Linked DNA regions of Homo sapiens: all the other regions are linked to region 2. Evidence: fine-mapped expression QTL. A gene starts in region 2. Each other region holds a variant in brackets. All regions are shown on one strand. Distances are from middle to middle.

Region 1 (6,650 bases), 620 kb before region 2:
GGAGCTTCTCAAAGTGAAAAGTCTGGGTAGGAATTGGGGTTAGAACAAATTAAAAGACCCAGCCGGGCACAGCGGCTCGCACCTGTAGTCCCAGCTACTCAGGAGGCCAAGGCAGAAGGACTGCTTGAGCCCAGGAGTTTGAGGCTGCAGTGAGCCATGATGGTGCCACCCTAGCCTGGGTGACAGTACAAAACCCCGTCTTTCTTTAAAAAAAAAAAAAAGAAGAAGAAGACTCAGCCAGAAATGGTGAATACAAGCACCAATTTTTTTGTTTTGTTTTGTTTTTTGAGATGGAGTTTTGCTCTGTCACCCAGGCTAGAGCACAGCAGCGTGATCTCAGCTCACTGCAACCTCTGCCTCCCGGGTTCAAGCAATTCTCTGCCTCAACTTCTCGAGTAGTTGGGATTACAGGCACCCGCCACCACACCCAGCTAATTTTTGTATTTTTAGTAGAGAAGGGGTTTCACCATCTTGGCCAGGCTGGTCTCGAACTCCTGACGTCGTGATCCACCCGCCTCGGCCTCCCAAAGTGCTGGGATTACAGGCGTGAGCCACCGCGCCCGGCCACAAGCACCAATTTTACTCACACTGGATAAGTTTAAATCCCACCTCCAGCAAGCTCTTAAACTTTTGGTGCCTTAGCTCCTTTGCCTATAAAAAATGGCTTCAGAGGCCAGGTGCGGCAGCTCACCAGCTGTAATACCAGCACTTTGGGAGACTGAGGTGGATAGCTTGAGGCCAGGAGTTTAAGACCAGCCTGGCCAACATGGTGAAACTCCATCTCTAAAAAAACGGAACAAAATTAGCCGGGCGTAGTGGTGCATGCCTGTAGTCCCACTATCGTGAGGCTGAGGCACAAGAATCGCCTGAACCCAGAGGGTGGGGGTTGCAGTGAGCCGAGATCATGCCACTGCGCTCCAGCCTAGGTGACAGGGTGAGACCCTGTCTCAAAAAACCATGTTCTTAAAAAAGGTTTAGTACCCACACTTCCTTGTATAGTTATGATAATTAAAGGGACAATAAGGCATTTGTCACAATGCTTAGCTAATATTAAACCTTATTATTGTTATTATTCCTAAGAGTGTCTTTAGGAACCAACCTCTAAGAACAGCGTTTTGCCCAGAGCCTGAGCCAAAAGGCTTTGAGATGAGTTGCTGGAAGTGAAGCTTCAGGTGAGGGAGATGAATGAAAATGACCACAGGAAACCACAGGCCACCGAGCACTATGATGGCACCTACCAAGCTTCACTTTCTTCCTTTTCTCATCAAGTTTCTGGGTCCTCTCTGCTGCTTGCTTCTTGGCTTTCCTGACCTTGTCATATGCAGCCTGGCAGGAGAAAGGGGCACAGGGCAGAGGGTCAGTGAGAGAGTAAAGACAGAGCCCCGGCAATCTGCCTGGCCCCTAGCCCACGAGCCATCAGAGTGGCAGCCTGGTGACTGGGTCTCCTGGGCTTAGACAGCAAGGACTGTGCCACATGGCAAAGGGCAGAGGACCGAGGTTGAGAGGCAGCAGTGGTCTCTAACCATGGGGGACGATTCCGATGAAGGAGGCTGTGCTTACCCTGGCTGCAGCATCGGTCAGCACCTCCAAGGCCTGAGAAAGCTGGTGGAAGAGTTCAGCTAAACATAAGGATCAAAAAGACAGAAGAAAAATAAAGTTAAGACTTCGTAATGGTGTGCTCCCTCAAAAAAAAAAAAAATCTTCAAAGAAGTCACAGGATGGCAGACAAGCCGACATCAGCAGATGACAGACCAACAAGGAGGGGTGAGCATATCAGCAACTGACCAGACACCCCTCACAGGAGGGAAGCCCTGGGACCCATTGCCTGGAGCCAGGCAATGTGTGCTTACACCCCACAGCACTCACATGCAGAGCTTACATCGGGAAACACAATGCCCGGGTGAGTGGGTTTCTTTCTCCCCACGCCCTGAGAAGAGTCTCACCTGCTCTGGGATTATCTGGATTTTTGTCTGGGTGGCAGGAGAGGGCCTTCTGCCTATACGCCTTCTTTACCTGGAAGAGTCAGACAGAAGACATGGCCATTCACTCTCATCCCAGGGACAAACAGGAAAACCTTGCTCAATGGGTAAGGGGAATCCCATGCACACCTAAAAGAGAAGCTGCTGGCGCCCACTTCCTAGCCACCAGGGAGACTGGCAATGGAGGAGGCCAAGGCCATGGAGGGAGTGAGCCACTGTCGCCCAGCACAGGAGCTGGGCCCACCTCCTGCTAAGTGCTCAACCTCACCACTGCAGATGTCCAGGGGCTGCTGCAACAGGCAGGAGCACAGTACCCCGCTTTCTCGACAGCCACTCGAAGACAGGTACTCTACACATTCTTGGTGGGCATATAAACTGGGGCAACCTATCTGGAAGAAAATTCAGCCATCAAAATTTAAAATGTTCTTTCCCTTTGACCCAAGTCCTAGGAATCTGGACTTGTAGAAGTATGGCAAAAATAAATATACAAGGATGCTCTCTACAACACTGTTGATACTAGCCAGCCAAGATCCCCATCAACGGGGAGACTCATTTAAAAGATTATGATTGGCCGGTGCGGTGGCTCACGCCTGTCATCCCAGCACTTTGGGAGGCTGAGGTGGACAGATCACCTGAGGTCAGGAGTTTGAGACCAGCCTCACTAACATAGTGAAACTCCATCTCTACTAAATATACAAAAATTAGCTAGGCATAGTGGCGGGCAGCTGTAATCCCAGCTACTTGGGAGGCTGAGGCAGGAGAATCGCTTGAACCGAGGAGGCGGAGGTTGCAGTGAGCCGAAATCGCACCACTACACTCCGGCCTGGCGACAGAGCAAGACTCTGTCTCAAATAAAATAAAATAAAATAAAATAAAAAATAAAATAAAAGATTATGATTGAGGCCGGACATGGTGGCTCACGCCTGTAATCACAGCACTTTGGGAGGCTGAGGCGGGTGGATCACTTGAGGTCAGGAGTAGGAGACCA[G/A]CCTGGCCAACATGGCGAAACCCCATCTCTACTAAAAATACAAAAATTAGCTGGGTGTGATGACATATTCCCCTGTAATCCCCCTACTTGGGAGGCTGAGGCATGAGAATCGCTTGATTCATGCAGGAGGCAGAGGTTGCAGTGAGCCAAGATTGTGCCACTACACTCCAGCCTGTGGGACAAGAGCGAGACTCCATCTCAGAAAAAAAAAAAAAAAAAAAAAGATTATGATTGGCCAGACATGGTGTAATCCTGTAATCCTGGCATGTAATCCTGTAATCCTCATGCCTGTAATCCTGGCACTTTGGGAGGCTGAGGTGGGCAGATCACTTGAGGTCAGGAGTTCGAGACCAGCCTCGCCAACAAAGCAAAACCCTGTCTCTATTAAAAATACAAAAATTAGCCGGGCATGGTGGCGTGCACCTGTAGACCCAGCTACTTGGGAGGCTGAGGCAGGAGAATCACTTGAGCCCCAGAGGCGGAGGTTGCAGTGAGCCGAGATCATGCCATTGTACTCTAGCCTGAGTGACAGAGGGAGACCTTGTCTCAAAAAAATAATAAAAAATAAATTTCAAAAAGTTTGTTCAGGAATTTGCCACGCTTATTAAAATTTTTTTTAAATAAAATATTATAGTAGACAGAGGTATCCATGTTCTGACATAGATCTTATTATAAACTTTTGAGTTTAGTCCAGGTGCGGTGGCTCAAGCCTGTAATCCCAGCACTTTGGGAGGCCGAGACAGGTGGATCACGAGGTCAGGAGATTGAGACCATCCCGGCTAACACGGTGAAACCCCGTCTCTACTAAAAATACAAAAAAATTAGCCAGGCATGGTGGCGGGCGCCTGTAGTCCCAGCTACTCGAGAGGCTGAGGCAGGAGAATCGCTTGAACCTGGGAGGCAGAGGTTGCAGTGAGCCGAGATCACACCATTGCACTGCAGCCTGGGAGACAGAATGAGACTCTGTCTCAAAAAAAAAAAATTTTTTTTTGTCAGGTGTGGTGGTGCATGCCTGTAGTCCCAGCTACTCAGGCGGTTGAGGCGAGAGGATCGCTTGAGCCCAGGAGTTCCAGCCAAGCCTGGGCAACATGGCAAGACCTCATCTCTACAAAAATTTTTTAAACATGAGCCAGGTGTGGTAGCATGTGCCTTTGTCCCCCTACTCAGGAGGCTGAGGTGGGAGGATCACTGGAGCCCGGGAGGTTGAAGCTGTAGTGAGCATGTTCACACCACTGCATTTCAGCCTAGGTGACAGAGTGAGACCTTGTCTCAAAAATAAAAATAAAAAAATTTTAAATTAAATTAAAATAAAATAAAAAATTAGCCAGGCATAGTGGTGCGTGCCTGCAGTACCAGCTACTAAGGAGGTTGAGGAGGGAGGATCACCTCAGCCAAGGATTTTGAGGCTGCCGTGAGCTATGATGATGCCACTGCACTCCAGCCTGGGTGACAGAGCAAGACTCTCTCTTAAATACATAGAAAGAAAGAAACCCCAATATTTCTTACATAAGTAAAAATAAACACAGCTACCAAGATTCTCTTTCGTGTGCTACCTAATAGCTGTTGTAAGTGAAGACAGTGTACACAACCCCAGAATCCGTCCTCTGCCTCCAAGGCCTTTGCTTTCTCCCTTCTGCTTGGTGTGTGTTACCTGCTGCTCAAACCTCCTGGAGGAAGAGCTAAGCAGATTGGATTTCTAAGCTTCCAAGATGGACGCAAGAAACGCTTCTACACCCAAGTGTGCTAAATAAGGACTTTCAGAGGTAAGCAGCCAGCATCCACAAGGTGAGCACCTGCTGGGCAACTCCTCCATCCATGAGGCAGCCACCGGGCCCAGGACCTCTAGGGGTGTGCTGCCACCTGCTGGGCCATAGCCAGGGCACCTGCCATGGCAGCCCAAGCTGTTTGGTTCTCCTGACTGCCTTGGAGGCAGCAGGAACCACCCAGGACAGGCGCTGGGCAGAGAGGGTGTAGACGTGCCACCTGCCTTCCCAATCGCCCACCGAAGCACATCTGCCCTGCCTGCTCACCTCCCACCCTAACCCTCCCTGCCTAGCTCTGTTTTCACTACAAAAAAGAACAATATTAAGGGAAAGGAGGTGCTAGCTTAAGACAGTGTCATCTTTGCAATATATCATCTTTACTTTTTAGGTCCCTTATCATTCGTCTTTTCTTTCTTTTGCTCTCTTTGCCTGCTTTATTGTGCCTCCAGCCTCATTCCTTTACTGAACATATTTTATATTTCAGGGCCCCTGTTTGCTTTTTTTCAATAAGTAAAACAATACCAAAAACATTATAAAGATGTTCTTTCTCAATCTCCCCAGCCCTCTGACATCAAGGTTCATTAACACATATAAAAGCACCTACACACACTGACAGGAGTCTGTTGGGTGTTTGTTCCTGGCCTCTGGGCCCCTCCTCTCTGATCCTATCTCCACCCTCTCTCTGGGATGGGTGAGAGGAAGGGAGGGGGAGGCGGTCCATGTCCCAGTATCTATGGCATCACCTGCAACACTACCTTCAAGATGAACTTCCTCAGGACTAGGACTAGTAGGCTTGCCCCAGGGATGTAGGGGGGTTTTGTGGAAGATGTTTTCTTTTGTATCATGGGGCTCTTTTAAAGTGGTTTAGGCTGGGCATGGTGGCTCACACCTCTAATCCCATCGCTGTGGGAGGCCGAGGTGGGTGGATCACTTGAGGTCTGGAGTTTGAGACCAGCCTGGCCAACATGGTGAAACTTGTATCTACTAAAAATATAAAAATTAGCCGGGTGTGGTGGTGCATGCTTGTAATCTCAGCTATGGGGGAAGCTGAGGCAGAAGAATCACTTGATTCCGGGGGGCAGAGGCTTCAGTGAGCTGAGATCGTGTCACTGTACCCCAGCCTGGGTGACAGAGTAAGGCTCTGTCTCAAAAAAATAAAATAAAAGTTTGTATGTTCCTTGTTATAAATCTGAGAGGGGGAGTAGAAGTGAGTGTGAAGAAGAAGGAGCAGGCTGGGTGTGGTGGCTCACGCCTGTAATCCCAGCATTTTGGGAGGCTGAGGCGGGCGAATCAGTTGAGGTCAGGAATTCGAGACCAGCCTGGCCAACGTGGTAAAACCCCGTCTCTACCAAAAATACAAAAATTAGCTGGGCGTGGTGGCACACGCCTGTAGTCCCAGCTACTAGGGAGGCTGAGGCAGGAACCTGGGAGGCGGAGGTTGCAGTGAGCCGAGATTGCACCACTGCACTCCAGCCTGGGCGACAAAAATAAAATTCTGTCTCAAAAAAAAAAAGAAGGAGCAGTAAGAAAGCAAGACAGAAGGGGTGTCCAGCAGTGGCATCTCCTTCATTTTCTTTCCTTTTTTTGAGAGAATGCTTTCTGAATTTTATTCTAAGGGAATGATAAATATTCTTTTGTGTTTCATAATTTATTTTGAATGTTCTATATTGGAATTTTGGTTTTTCACTGTAATAGGAAAATAAAATTATTCAAGCTGAAAAATCCACTCATATTGTCAAATATGCTTTACATATATTAACTTATTTAATTCTTAAAGCCCCTATGAGGTAGAAATTATTATCCTCCTCATTTTACAAATGAGGAAACTGTGACATAAGGGTTAATTATGATACCCAAAATCCATTCAATGAAAAGCCATACAAACATTACTTTAGGCAAAAACTATTCTACTCCAGCCAA
Region 2 (6,650 bases):
TACTAAAAATACAGAAATTAGTTGGTCATGTTGGAGAGCGCCTGTAATCCCAGCTACTGGGGAGGCTGAGGCAGGAGAATCACTTGAACCCAGGAGGCGGAGGTTGCAAGTGAGCCGAGATTGCACCACTGCACTCCAGCCTGGGTGACAAAAGTGAAATTCCATCTCAAAAAAAATAAAAAAACCAAAAATTGTAGCCCGCCACAGTGGCTCACACCTGTAATCCCAGCACTCTGGGAGTCTTAGGCAGGCAAATGACTTGTCGTCAGGAGTTGGAGACCAGCCTGCCCAACATGGTAAAACCCCGTCTCCATTAAAAATACAAAAATTGGCCTGGCACGGTGGCTCATGCCTGTAATCCCAACACTTCGGGAGGCCAGGGCAGGCGGATCACCTAGGACAGGAGTTCAAGACCAGCCTAACCAACATGGTGAAACCCCTACAGAAAATACAAACAATTAGCCAGGTGTGGTGGCCCATGCCTGTAATCCCAGCTACTTGGGAGGCCTAGGCATAAGAATCGCTTGAACCCAGGAGGCAGACGTTGCAGTGAGCCGAGATCGTGCCATTGCACTCCAGCCTGGGCGACAGAGTGACTCCAACTAAAAAAAAAAAAAAATTAGCTGGGCATGGTGGTGGGCACCTGTAATCCCAGCTACTCGGGAGGCTGAGGCAGGAGAATCGCTTGAACCTGGGAGGCAGAGGCTGCAATGAGCCAAGACTGCACCATCGCACTCCAGCCTGGGCAACAAAAGTGAAACTCTGTCTCAAAAAAAAAAATACAGGCCGGGCGCGGTGGCTCACGCCTGTAATCCCAGCACTTTGGGAGGCGGAGGCGGGCGGATCACGAGGTCAGGAGATCGAGACCATCCCGGCTAAAACGGTGAAACCCCGTCTCTACTAAAAAAATACAAAAAATTAGCCGGGCGTAGTGGCGGGCGCCTGTAGTCCCAGCTACTCGGGAGGCTGAGGCAGGAGAATGGCGTGAACCCGGGAGGCGGAGCTTGCAGTGAGCCGAGATCCCGCCACTGCACTCCAGCCTGGGCGACAGAGCGAGACTCCTTCTCAAAAAAAAAAAAAAAAAAAAAAAAAATACAAAAATTAGCTGGGTGTGGTGACGGGCACCTATAGGGTGGTGGCAAGCACCTATAATCCCAGCTACTCGGGAGGCTGAAGCAGGAAAATCGCTTGAACCCAGGAGTGGGACGCTGCAGTGAGCCAAGATCAAGCCACTGCACTCCAGCTTGGGCAACAGAGCAGGACTCTGTCTAAAAAATAAATAAATAAAAATAAAAAATTGTAAGGCCAGGCGCAGTGGCTCACGCCTGTAATCCCAGCACTTTGGGAGGCCAAGGTGGGTGGATGACAAGGTCAGGAGTTTGAGGCCAGCCTGACCAACATGAAGAAACCCCATCTCTACTAAAAATACAAAATTAGCCCGGTGTGGTGGCGCACAACTGTAGTCCCAGCTACTTGGGAGGCTAAGGCAGGAGAATAGCTTGAACAGGAGGTGGAGGTTGTGGTGAGCCAAGATCACGCCATTGCACTCCAGCCTGGGCAACAAGAGCAAAATTCCATCTCAAAAAAAAAAAAAAAAAAATAGAGATGAGGTCTTGTTATGTTGCTCAGACGAGTCTCTAACTCCTGGGTTCAAGTGATCCTCCTGCCTCAGCCTCTGGAGTACCTGGGATTACAGGCGTGAGCCACTGCACCTGATGAATACCACTCCTAATACTTTTTTTTTTCTTTTTTGAGACAGAGTCTCACTCTGTCACCCAGGCTGGAGTGCAGTGGCACGATCTCGGCTCACTGCAAGCTCCGCCTCCCGGGTTCACGCCATTCTCCTGCCTCAGCCTCGCGAGTAGCTGGGACTACAGGCGCCCGCCACCATGCCCAGCTATTTTTTTTTTTTTTTTTTTTTTGGATTTTTAATAGAGACAGGGTTTCACCGTGTTAGCCAGGATGGTCTCGATCTCCTGACCACGTGATCCACCTGCCTTGTTCTCCCAAAGTACTGTGATTACAGGTGTGAGCCACCATGCCCAGCCTACTCCTAACACTTTCATATCACCCTGATATATATTATCTCATGCCATCCACACACAAATCCTATGAAACAAGTCAGATACGTATTTCCTTTCTGTAGGATACAGACACCAATAGGTAAAATGACATTATCAATACTTTTTTTTTTTTTTGAGACGGAGTCTTGCTCTGTCACCAGGCTAGAGATCTCCGCTCACTGCAATCTCCGCCTCCTGGGTTCAAGCGATTCTCTTGTCTCAGCCTCCTGAATAGCTGGGATTACAGGCGGGCGCCACCATGCCCGGCTAATTTTTGTTTTTGTTTTTGTTTTTTCAGTAGAGATGAGGTTCCACTATGTTGGCCAGAGTGGTCTCGAACTCCTGACCTCAGGTGATCCGCCTACATGGGCCTCCTAAAGTACTGGGATTACAGGCGTCAGCCACGGCGCCCAACCTTTTTTTTTTTTTTTTTTTTTGAGATGGAGTCTCGCTCTGTCACCCAGGCTGGAGTGCAATGGCACGACCCTGGCTCACTGCAACCTCCGCCTCCCGGGTTCAAGTGCTTCTCCTGCCTCTGCCTCCCGAGTGGCTGAAATTACAGGTGCCCGCCACCATGCCCAACTTTTTTTTTTTTTTTTTTAAGACAGAGTCCAGCTCTGTCCCCCAAGTTGGAGTGCAGTTGTGCGATCTCGGCTCATTGTAACCTCCACCTCCTGGTTTCAAGCAATTCTCTTGCCTCAGTCACTGGGATTACAGGCGTGCGCCACCACGCCCAGCTAATTTTTGTATTTTTAGTAGAGACAGGGTTTCACCATGTTGGCCAGGCTGGTCTCGAACTCCTGACCTCAAGTGATCCGCCCGCCTCGGCCTCCCAAAGTGCTGGGATTACAGGCGTGAGCCACCGCGCCCAGCCGACATTATCAATAAGGTTTGTTGATAAATCAAAACCATGTAAACAGTATGTTTTCACATGTATTATAAACGTTAAGGGAACCAGGAAAAATTAACAGTTGATCTGAGGTCCCGGAATTATGGATAATATTTAAATTCCCCCGCGCCGGTTGCACTTAAATGATTTTACCTCTACACATACCGAAATTTGAGAAACAAATGATAGCTCATAAAATGTTTTCCAAACCCTCCGTAGTGTTACTTCTCTAATAATATAACTTTAATTATAAATGCTTTGTTTCATTTTTTTTTTTCTACCAGTAAACAGAAAATCTAAACTATTAACTGGACAATACCGCCCTGAGGTTGACGGTGGGTTTTGACAACACAATCCACGCAGCTAGAAGTGAGTAGAATTAGTAAAGCTATCCATGCCTTACCATGTGCCAGAAACTGCTCTAAGTGTTTCACTGACGGCTCACAACAATCCTGAGAGAGGTACTATTATTATTTCAATTATAGAGACGAAGAAACTGACGTTCCAAGGCTAATTTACCCGAGGTCACACAGGTAGTGAGTGGCAAAATTCTTCCGCCTTGGCGTATACCTCCCGCACTCACGGCCTGGCCTCCGGAGGCTAGACGGTTCGCCGCGCTGGGGAGGCCCCCTCAACCCTCAAGTGCCAGGGCTCTGTCGCCTCCCCACACCCGGGACACACCAACCGCCGGCCTGCCGCCGCTTACCTCCCCGAGCCTATAGTGTACCTTCCGCCCAGAAGCCACTTTACCCGTATAGGTCCATCTGCTTTTCCCTTCCGATGCCAAACAAGGCGTCAGAACACCAAAGTTCCGGCCGAGTACAGAAGCCCAGGAAGGACAGCAAGGACCCCGTAGCCCAGCCAACTGAGGTTTTTGGAGGTTTTTGGTCCACTTGGTCGCCAGTTGTAAGGAAGCAGTGAGAATTCAGATAAGTTTTTCGCCTCTCCTTCCTGTATCCTTTCAGGCGGCAAACTCCATCCCTGCGTCTTTTTTTTTTTTTTTTTTTTTGAGACGGATTCTCGCTCTGTCGCCCAGGCTGGAGTGCAGTGGCGCGATCTCGGCTCACTACAACCTCTGCCTCCCAGATTCAAGCGATTCTCCTGCCTCAGCCTCCCGAGTAGCTGGGATTACAGGTGCGCGCCATCATGCCCGACTAATTTTTGTATTTTTAGTAGAGACGGGGTTTCACCATGTTAGCCGGGATGATCTCGATCTCCTGACCTCGTGATCCACCCGCCTCGGCCTCCCAAAGTGCTGAGATTACAGGCGCGAGCCACCAAGCCCGGCCCCCTGCGTCTTTCAAATAGAACCCAGTTATTGCTAACGCGCCTGTATCCCTTCCTTCCTTATCTGTCGCCTCGGTCCCCACAAGAACTGCCTGAGGCCTCAAAAGGCCGATTCTGCTGGAATTGCCCCCATGAATTCTTGAGGACCACCACGCACCTGGACAGCAGCCCCTCCTACCAGCCCTTCCCGAGTCTCGCCCCACACGGTCGCCAGTTGCTCAGGGCATCTGTTTGTACCTTGTGCACACCTCTCTTAAAGCACTTTTTTTTTTTGAGACGGAGTCTCACTCTGTTGCCCAGGCTGTAGTGCAGTGGCGCGATCTGCAACCTCCGACTCCTGGGTTGGAGCAATTCTCCTGCCTCAGCCTCCCAAGTAGCTGGGATTACAGGTGTGTGCCACCACACCCGGATAATTTTTGTATTTTTAGTAGAGATGGGGTTTCGCCATGTTGGCCAGGCTGGTCTCGAAATCCTGACCTCATGATCCACCCACCTCGGCCTCCCAAAGTGCTGGTATTACAGGCGTGAGCCACCATGCCCGGCCAAAGCACTTAAACATTGTTTGTTTTTGTTTTTTTTTCTTACTGCCAGGGAAGACAGAATCAACATTGTATCTTTCACTCACTTCTCACTTCCTTTGCCACGCTGTGAGCTTTCTTGGGTCCAGACTGCGCTGTTTTTCCTTTCCCCAGAATGTACCATAGCGGCGGGAATTTAGTGCTTAGTGTGAATTTGAGAGCATATAGTTCCGTAACACCTTTGTTCTCTAAGGTTCCGAAGGAGCTCACTAAATACACTAGCCCTTTCCATGTTTTCTCCTTCACTAGTTTCCGCGCCGCCTCCTCTTCCTCAAATTCGGCTTGGCTTCTCTAGACTCTACACTTGCCCCCTCAAACCTTACCTTTCTGCCCCCATCACTGACTCTTCTATTCTCTTCCCACAACCTTTAATGCGGGCTGTCTCTCCATGGCCCATCCTGCCTCTACCTCTTTTCTAGTTTCAAATATAAGTTATCGGCCGGGCGCGGTGGTTCACGCCTGTAATCCCAGCACTTTGGGAGGCCGAGGCGGGCGGATCACAAGGTCAGGAGATCGAGACCATCCTGGCTAACACGGTGAAACCCCGTCTCTACTAAAAATACAAAAAAATTGGCCGGGCGTGCTGGCGGGCGCCTGTAGTCCCAGCTACTCAGGAGACTGAGGCAGGAGAATGGCGTGAACCCGGGAGACGGAGCTTGCAGTGAGCCGAGATCGCACCACTGCACTCCAGCCTGGGCCACAGAGCCAGACTCCGTCTCAGAAAAAGAAAAAATCGAAATGTCTTTTTGTTGTTGTTTTTTAGGAAATATCCTTGAGCAATAAAGAAAACTAAATGTCTAAAACTAAATGTGTCATTTTTCCTCCTACTAATTCCTCCTGTCTCCCTATTTCTGTAAATGGCCACATCCTTCTAGGATGGAAATGCTTGACTGTCCTTGGCTCCTCTCCTTAAAATCTTCTCTTACTGATTTTAAATCCTGTTGCATTCTCTTGCTGTTTTTGATCTTTGATCTTTTCACACCTTCTTTCCAAGCCCACTGACACGTTTCTTGTTTTTTTGGTTTTTAAAATATAGTAGCCATCCTAATGAGTGTGAAGTGGTATCTCATTTTGGTTTTGATTTGCATGTCTCTAATCATTAGTTGTTTGCTGCTTTTTTTTTTTTGAACCACAGTCTTCCTCACCCAGGCTGGAGTGCAGTGGCGTGATCTCGGCTCACTGCAACCCCCGCCTCCCGGGTTCAAGTGATTCTCCTGCCTCAGCCTCCTGAGTAGCTGGGATTAGAGGTGCATGCCACCACACCCAGCTGATTATTGTATTTTTAGCAGAGTCAGGGTTTCGTCATGTTGGCCAGGCTGGTCTCCAACTCCTGACCTCAGTTGATCCACCCACCTCGGCCATCCAAGGTGCTGGGATTACAGGCGTGAGCCACTGTGCCAGGCTGTTTGCTTAAGTATAGGAAGCCCCATATGTATTTATTACCAGTGGAGAAAGGAAGGCTGGAAGAAAGAAAAAAATATTCAAATAGAAAGGAAGGACATGACAATGCCAGGCAGAAGAAAAGGTAGAGTCACTAGGGGAAGGAAATATAGGAAATAAAGGAAGGAAATAAAGGCAAAGAGCTGAGGGGAAATGATTATGTAGGTTAACCCAACCATGTCTGTAGCACCTTCTTCCTTGGCCTCCCAGACAGTGGTAGTGGGCTCCACCAAATCTTAACTATACCTTTGTTCACAACAAAACTGAAACCCAGCCAGGCAGGGTAGCTCACACCTGTAATGCCAGCACTTTGGGAGGCCTAGTCGGGTGAATCACCTGAGATCAGGAGTTCGAGACCAGCCTGGCCAACATGGTAAAACCCTGTCTCTACTA
Region 3 (5,000 bases), 190 kb before region 2:
TTACAGACACGCACCACCACACCCAGCTAATTTTTGTATTTTTAGTAGAGACGGTGTTCACCATGTTGGTCGGGCTGGTCTCAAACTCCTGACCTTGTGATTCACCCATCTCGGCCTCGCAAAGTGCTGGGATTACAGGCATGAGCCACCGTGTCCAGCCAGTTTTTGTTTTGTTTTGTTTTGTTTTGTTGTTTTTTGAGACAGAGTCTCACTCTTTCCCAGGCTGGAGTATAGTGGCATGATCTCGGCTCACTGTACCCTCCACCTCCTCCCACTCAGCCTCCCCAGTAACTGGGATTACAAGTGCCCACCACCACACCTGGCTAATTTTTGTATTTTTAGTAGAGATGGGGTTTTGCCATGTTGGTCAGGCTGTTTTAGTGGTTGCCAAGGGCTGAGGAGTGATTAGGAGTGATGGATAAGGGGTGTGGGGTTTCTTTCTGGTATACTGAAAATATTCTAAAATTTATTATGTTGCTTTACTTACAACTCTGTGACTACACTAAAAGAAAATGAGCTGTACATTTTAACTAAATAAATTGTATGGCATGTGGATTATATCTCAATAATGCTATTTTTTAATAAAAATCTTCTGTTCAGTTCAGACTTAAAAAACAACCTGTTGTTGACCATCCTGGCTAACACGGTGAAACCCCGTCTCTACTAAAAATACAAAAAATTAGCCGGGTGCAGTGGCAGGCGCCTGTAGTCCCAGCTACTCGGGAGGCTGAGGCAGGAGAATGGCGTGAACCCGGGAGGTGGAGCTTGCAGTGAGCCGAGATAGTGCCACTGCACTCCAGCCTGGGCGAAAGAGACTCCATCTCAAAAACAAAACAAAACAAAACAAAAACCTTTTGATAGCTAACTGTCCTTTTAAAAATGCATCCATGGGCCAGGGACAGTGGCTTACACCTGTAATCCCAGCACTTTGGGAGGCGGAGATAGGCAGATCACCTGAGGTCAGGAGTTTGAGACCAGCCTGGCCAACATGGCAAAACCCCATCTCTACTACTAAAAATACAAAAATTAGCTGGCGTGGTGGTGCATGCCTGTAATACCAGCTACTCAGGAGGCTGAGCCAGGAGAATCGCTTGAACCCAGGAGGCGGAGGTTGAGGTGAGCCAAGATCACCCCACCGAACTCCAGCCTGGGCCACAAGGCGAGACTCCATCTCAAAAAAAAAAAAAAATTCTGACTCTTCTCTGAAACTGCCAATGGCTTTAAGTCAAACTCAAAATCTTTACAATGTCTAGAAAGCCCTAAGTGAACTGCCTCCTGCCCCCTTCCATCTCCTACCATTCTTCTTCACTGTGGTCCTGTCACACTGACCTCCCTGCTGTTCCTCCACACAAGCCAGGAATATTTCAGCCTCAGGGCCTTTGCACTTGCTAATTCCACTTTTAAGTTCTTCACTTTTTTTTTTTTGAGATGGAGTCTCGCTCTGTCACCCAGGCTGGAGTGCAGTGGCACGATCTCGGCTCACTGCAAGCTCCGCCTCCCGAGTTCACACCATTCTCCTGACCCAGCCTGGTGAGTAGCTGGGACTACAGGCGCCTGCCAGCATGCCCGGCTATTTTTTTGTATTTTTAGTAGAGACGGGTTTTCACCGTGTTAGCCAGGATGGTCTCAATCTCCTGACCTCGTGATCCACCCGCCTCAGCCTCCCAAAGTGCTGGGATTACAGGCGTGAGCCACTGCACCCAGCCTTTAAGTTCTCCACTTTGATATCTACATGGCTCCCTTACTTACTCAGGTCTTTGTTCTAATGTCACCTCCCTAGAGATGTTTTCTCTGTCTATCCCACATAAAATAGGACCTCCTTGTCACTCTAGTCCCCATACCATGCTTTATTTTTATTCCCAGCACTTACTGCCATCTAAAATAAAAGCACTTGTTTATTGTCTTGCATTAGAATATAAGCTCCTTGAGGGCGGGAACTTTGTCTTGATTATGGTTTTACCCAAGAGCTCAGAACAGTGCCTGGCATATAGGCATATAGCAGCCACCAAATATGTTGTTGAATTAATAGGAAAAAAAATCAAAAATCTTATAATAAAGAAATTTACAGCCGAGCGTGGTGGCTCATGCCTGTAATCCCAGCACTTTGGGAGGCCGAGGCGGGTGGATCACGAGGTCAGGAGATCGAGACCATCCTGGCTAACACGGTGAAACACTGTCTTTACTAAAAATACAAAAAATTAGCCAGGCGTGGTGGCGGGCACCTGTAGTCCCAGCTACACGGGAGGCTGAGGCAGGAGAAGGGTGTGAACCTGGGAGGCGGAGCTTGCAGTGAGCCAAGATTGGTCCACTGCACTCCAACCTGGGCGATAGAGCAAGACTCCGTCTCAAAAAAAAAAAGAAAGAAAGAAATTTATGACACACAGACATGATACCTACATACAGGCAATACTAGTAATGATTGAGGACAATACTTACCGCAGCACCAAACTTCTGCTGGAATTGATTAATGACTGTGTATGTCACCTCCTCTTCCTCTACAAGACAAGGATTGCATTAGATATATTTCTCTTCCTCAGCAACAGAATAGCTTTCTCAATAATTTTGGCCACACTCATATATTCCTACTGTATTGCAACTCAAATACCCTAAAATTGCAAAACCACCCTCCCTACGTACTACTTCTCTTCCTTTTTTTTCCTCCTTAGCATTTGGCACTATTACAGTATATATTTTACTTATTTATCTAATTTAGCATCTGTTTGCTGCTCAGTAAGGGGAGGGATACCATATTTCAGAATCCCCAATGAATAAGTGTACCCCAATAATTATGAGTACACACACAGTATGTACTCAGTTATTAAATAAACAAATGAATCACAATATTTTATCTTAATTCAGAACCCAGAAGCAATGGCTCAGCTTAGGATTCCATAGAGAATCTTGATTCAGGGTTACATCAACTCTAAACAGTAAAGAGAGCCTAGTTGAATTTGACTGACCTGGTTAAAAAAAAAAAAAAGA[G/A]AGAGAGAGCCTAGAAAATTCAGAGCCTCGGCTGGGCACAGTGGCTCATGCCTTTAATCACAACACTTTAGGAGGCCAAGGCGGGCGGATCACCTGAGGTCGGGAGTTCGAGACTAGCCTGATCAACATGGAGAAACCCCGTCTCTACTAAAAATACAAAATTAGCTGGGCGTGGTGGCACATGCCTGTAATCACAGCTACTATGGAGGCAGAGGCAGGATAATTGCTTGAATCCAGGAGGTGGAGGTTGCAGTGAGCCGAGATCACGCCATTGCACTGCAGCCTGGGCAACAAGAGCGAAACTCCATCTCAAAAAAAAAAAGAAAATTCAGAGCCCCTATATTCACCTGATGGGCTGTACTTGAGGTCATTCAGCAGAGAGGTAGCTGGTGCTTCAGGGGCAGGAGAAGCAGGCTCACATACATTTAGGTCTTCAACTTTCATTTTCTCCATCCAGGTTCTTTCTGCATGTAGACTATCCTTACAAGAAACAATATTTGGGTGAACTTGTTCTTTGTTGTTGACACCAAAAACAGATTTTGCCACACATTAACGTTAAGGACAGTGGTCCTTCATTAACTAGAGGACCCATTCATCCACTGCTTACATTGACTTGAGGGCGCTATCTAACAATGGAAGAAAACACCTATATATTTCTTCTCATTTCTATTTCCTTATGCCAAGGAATTAAGCAGCTGGTGAATTAGAGTTAAGGCTTTCTACCCTAATGTGCACATTTGGAAAATATCATAATTAAGAAAATTATTCCTTCTTACCTAACAGAAGATGCTTTTGCTCTCACTGAGCCTTGTTCCACTTCATCTAGTAGTTCCACTGTAAAATAACCAAATGGCTTCCAACAGAGTTTCCAATCAGAAATCAATTAACTACTCCACTACCCACACACCCCTAGTTTAACCATGTACTGCAAACAATAATTGGAAATGACATGTTAGTCCACGGAGGCTTTTACTGGCCAGCAATAAATACAACAGAAGAGACCATCTAAAGTACCAAAGACTCTCAGTATTCTATCCCTACAAAGCTTCTTGGTTATTTAGAAGGATTAGGAACATTTCTATACATCCCCTTCACCCTTTTTGTTCTAGGGTACCTTTGTGGTCATTCAAGTTAGTTCTAGAGATTTCTTTCCCACCATCCCAATCCTAATGCACCTTCCTTCACATGGGTGCTGTTTGAGGGTTTTCCTTTTTTTTTTTTTTTTTTTGAGATGAAGTCTCGCACTGTTGCCTAGGCTGGAGTGCAGAGGTGCGACCTCAGCTCACTGTAACCTCCGCCTCCCAGGTTCAGGTGATACTCCTGCCTCAGCCTCCCAAGTCCCATGCCTGGGACTACAGGCATGCGCCACCACACACAGCTAACTTTTGTATTTTTAGTAGAGACGGGGTTTCACCATTGTGGCCAGGCTGGTCTCAATCTCTTGACCTCTTGATCCGCTCGCCTCAGCCTCCCTAAGTGCTGGGATTACAGGCGTGAGCCACCACATCTGGCCTCGTTTAGGTACTTTTCAAGCAAAAAGCCTCTATGTTTCAAAAGTCTCTTTTCTCTGTACTATCTAGAAGTATTGAATCTGGAGCAGAGAAAAGGTAAAATTGACTGAAAAATGCTGATTAGCCATTATTATCCTTCATCTTGACAATTCTTATCCAAGGTACTTTTGGGGACAACTCCTCCATGGTTGATTGGGCCACAGGACAAAGACAGAAATGACTATCCTTTGAGCTTAAAAATTATGAGCAAAGCCTATAATCCCAGCACTCTGGGAAGCTGAGGCAGGCAGATCACCTGAGGTCAGGAGTTCGAGACCAGCCTGGCCAACATGGCGAAACCCTGTGTCTCTACTAAAAAAATACAACAATTGGGCTGGGTGCAGTGGCTCACGCCTGTAATCCCAGCACTTTGGGAGGGTGAGGGGGGTGAATCATTTGAGGTCAGGAGTTTGAGACCAACCTAGACAACATGGTGAAACCCCGTTTCTACTAAAAATACAAAAAAAT

Alleles and levels. Positions count from the first base shown, and alleles are read on the strand shown. Sizes are in standard deviations (SD) of each study's normalised expression. Not every link is listed here.
For the expression in ileum of the gene that starts at base 3,708 in region 2, allele A in region 3 goes with a lower level than allele G (moderate effect, 0.55 SD a copy in GTEx).

The links. PIP is the estimated chance that this variant, and not a neighbour inherited with it, causes the effect. A credible set is the group of variants that fine-mapping cannot tell apart.
Region 1: its variant is the best candidate, but not a certain one, in a credible set for the expression of NDUFAF1 in neutrophils (BLUEPRINT, PIP 0.57).
Region 3: its variant is the best candidate, but not a certain one, in a credible set for the expression of NDUFAF1 in ileum (GTEx, PIP 0.56).

What each region holds. Positions count from the first base shown.
Region 1 is chr15:40,777,985-40,784,634 of GRCh38, forward strand. It overlaps DNAJC17 (DnaJ heat shock protein family (Hsp40) member C17), which reads right to left. Exons shown (of 11, transcript NM_018163.3): 2 at 1,944-2,013; 3 at 1,561-1,619; 4 at 1,239-1,326. Among named protein-coding and RNA genes, the nearest start is that of C15orf62, 11 kb to the left of the region's middle. The variant G/A (reference allele first, on the strand shown) is at 2,968.
Region 2 is chr15:41,398,789-41,405,438 of GRCh38, forward strand. NDUFAF1 (NADH:ubiquinone oxidoreductase complex assembly factor 1) reads right to left here and starts at 3,708. Exons shown (of 5, transcript NM_016013.4): 1 at 3,356-3,708.
Region 3 is chr15:41,213,339-41,218,338 of GRCh38, forward strand. It overlaps EXD1 (exonuclease 3'-5' domain containing 1), which reads right to left. Exons shown (of 12, transcript NM_001286441.2): 4 at 3,759-3,816; 5 at 3,330-3,457; 6 at 2,437-2,495. Among named protein-coding and RNA genes, the nearest start is that of EXD1, 15 kb to the right of the region's middle. The variant G/A (reference allele first, on the strand shown) is at 2,983.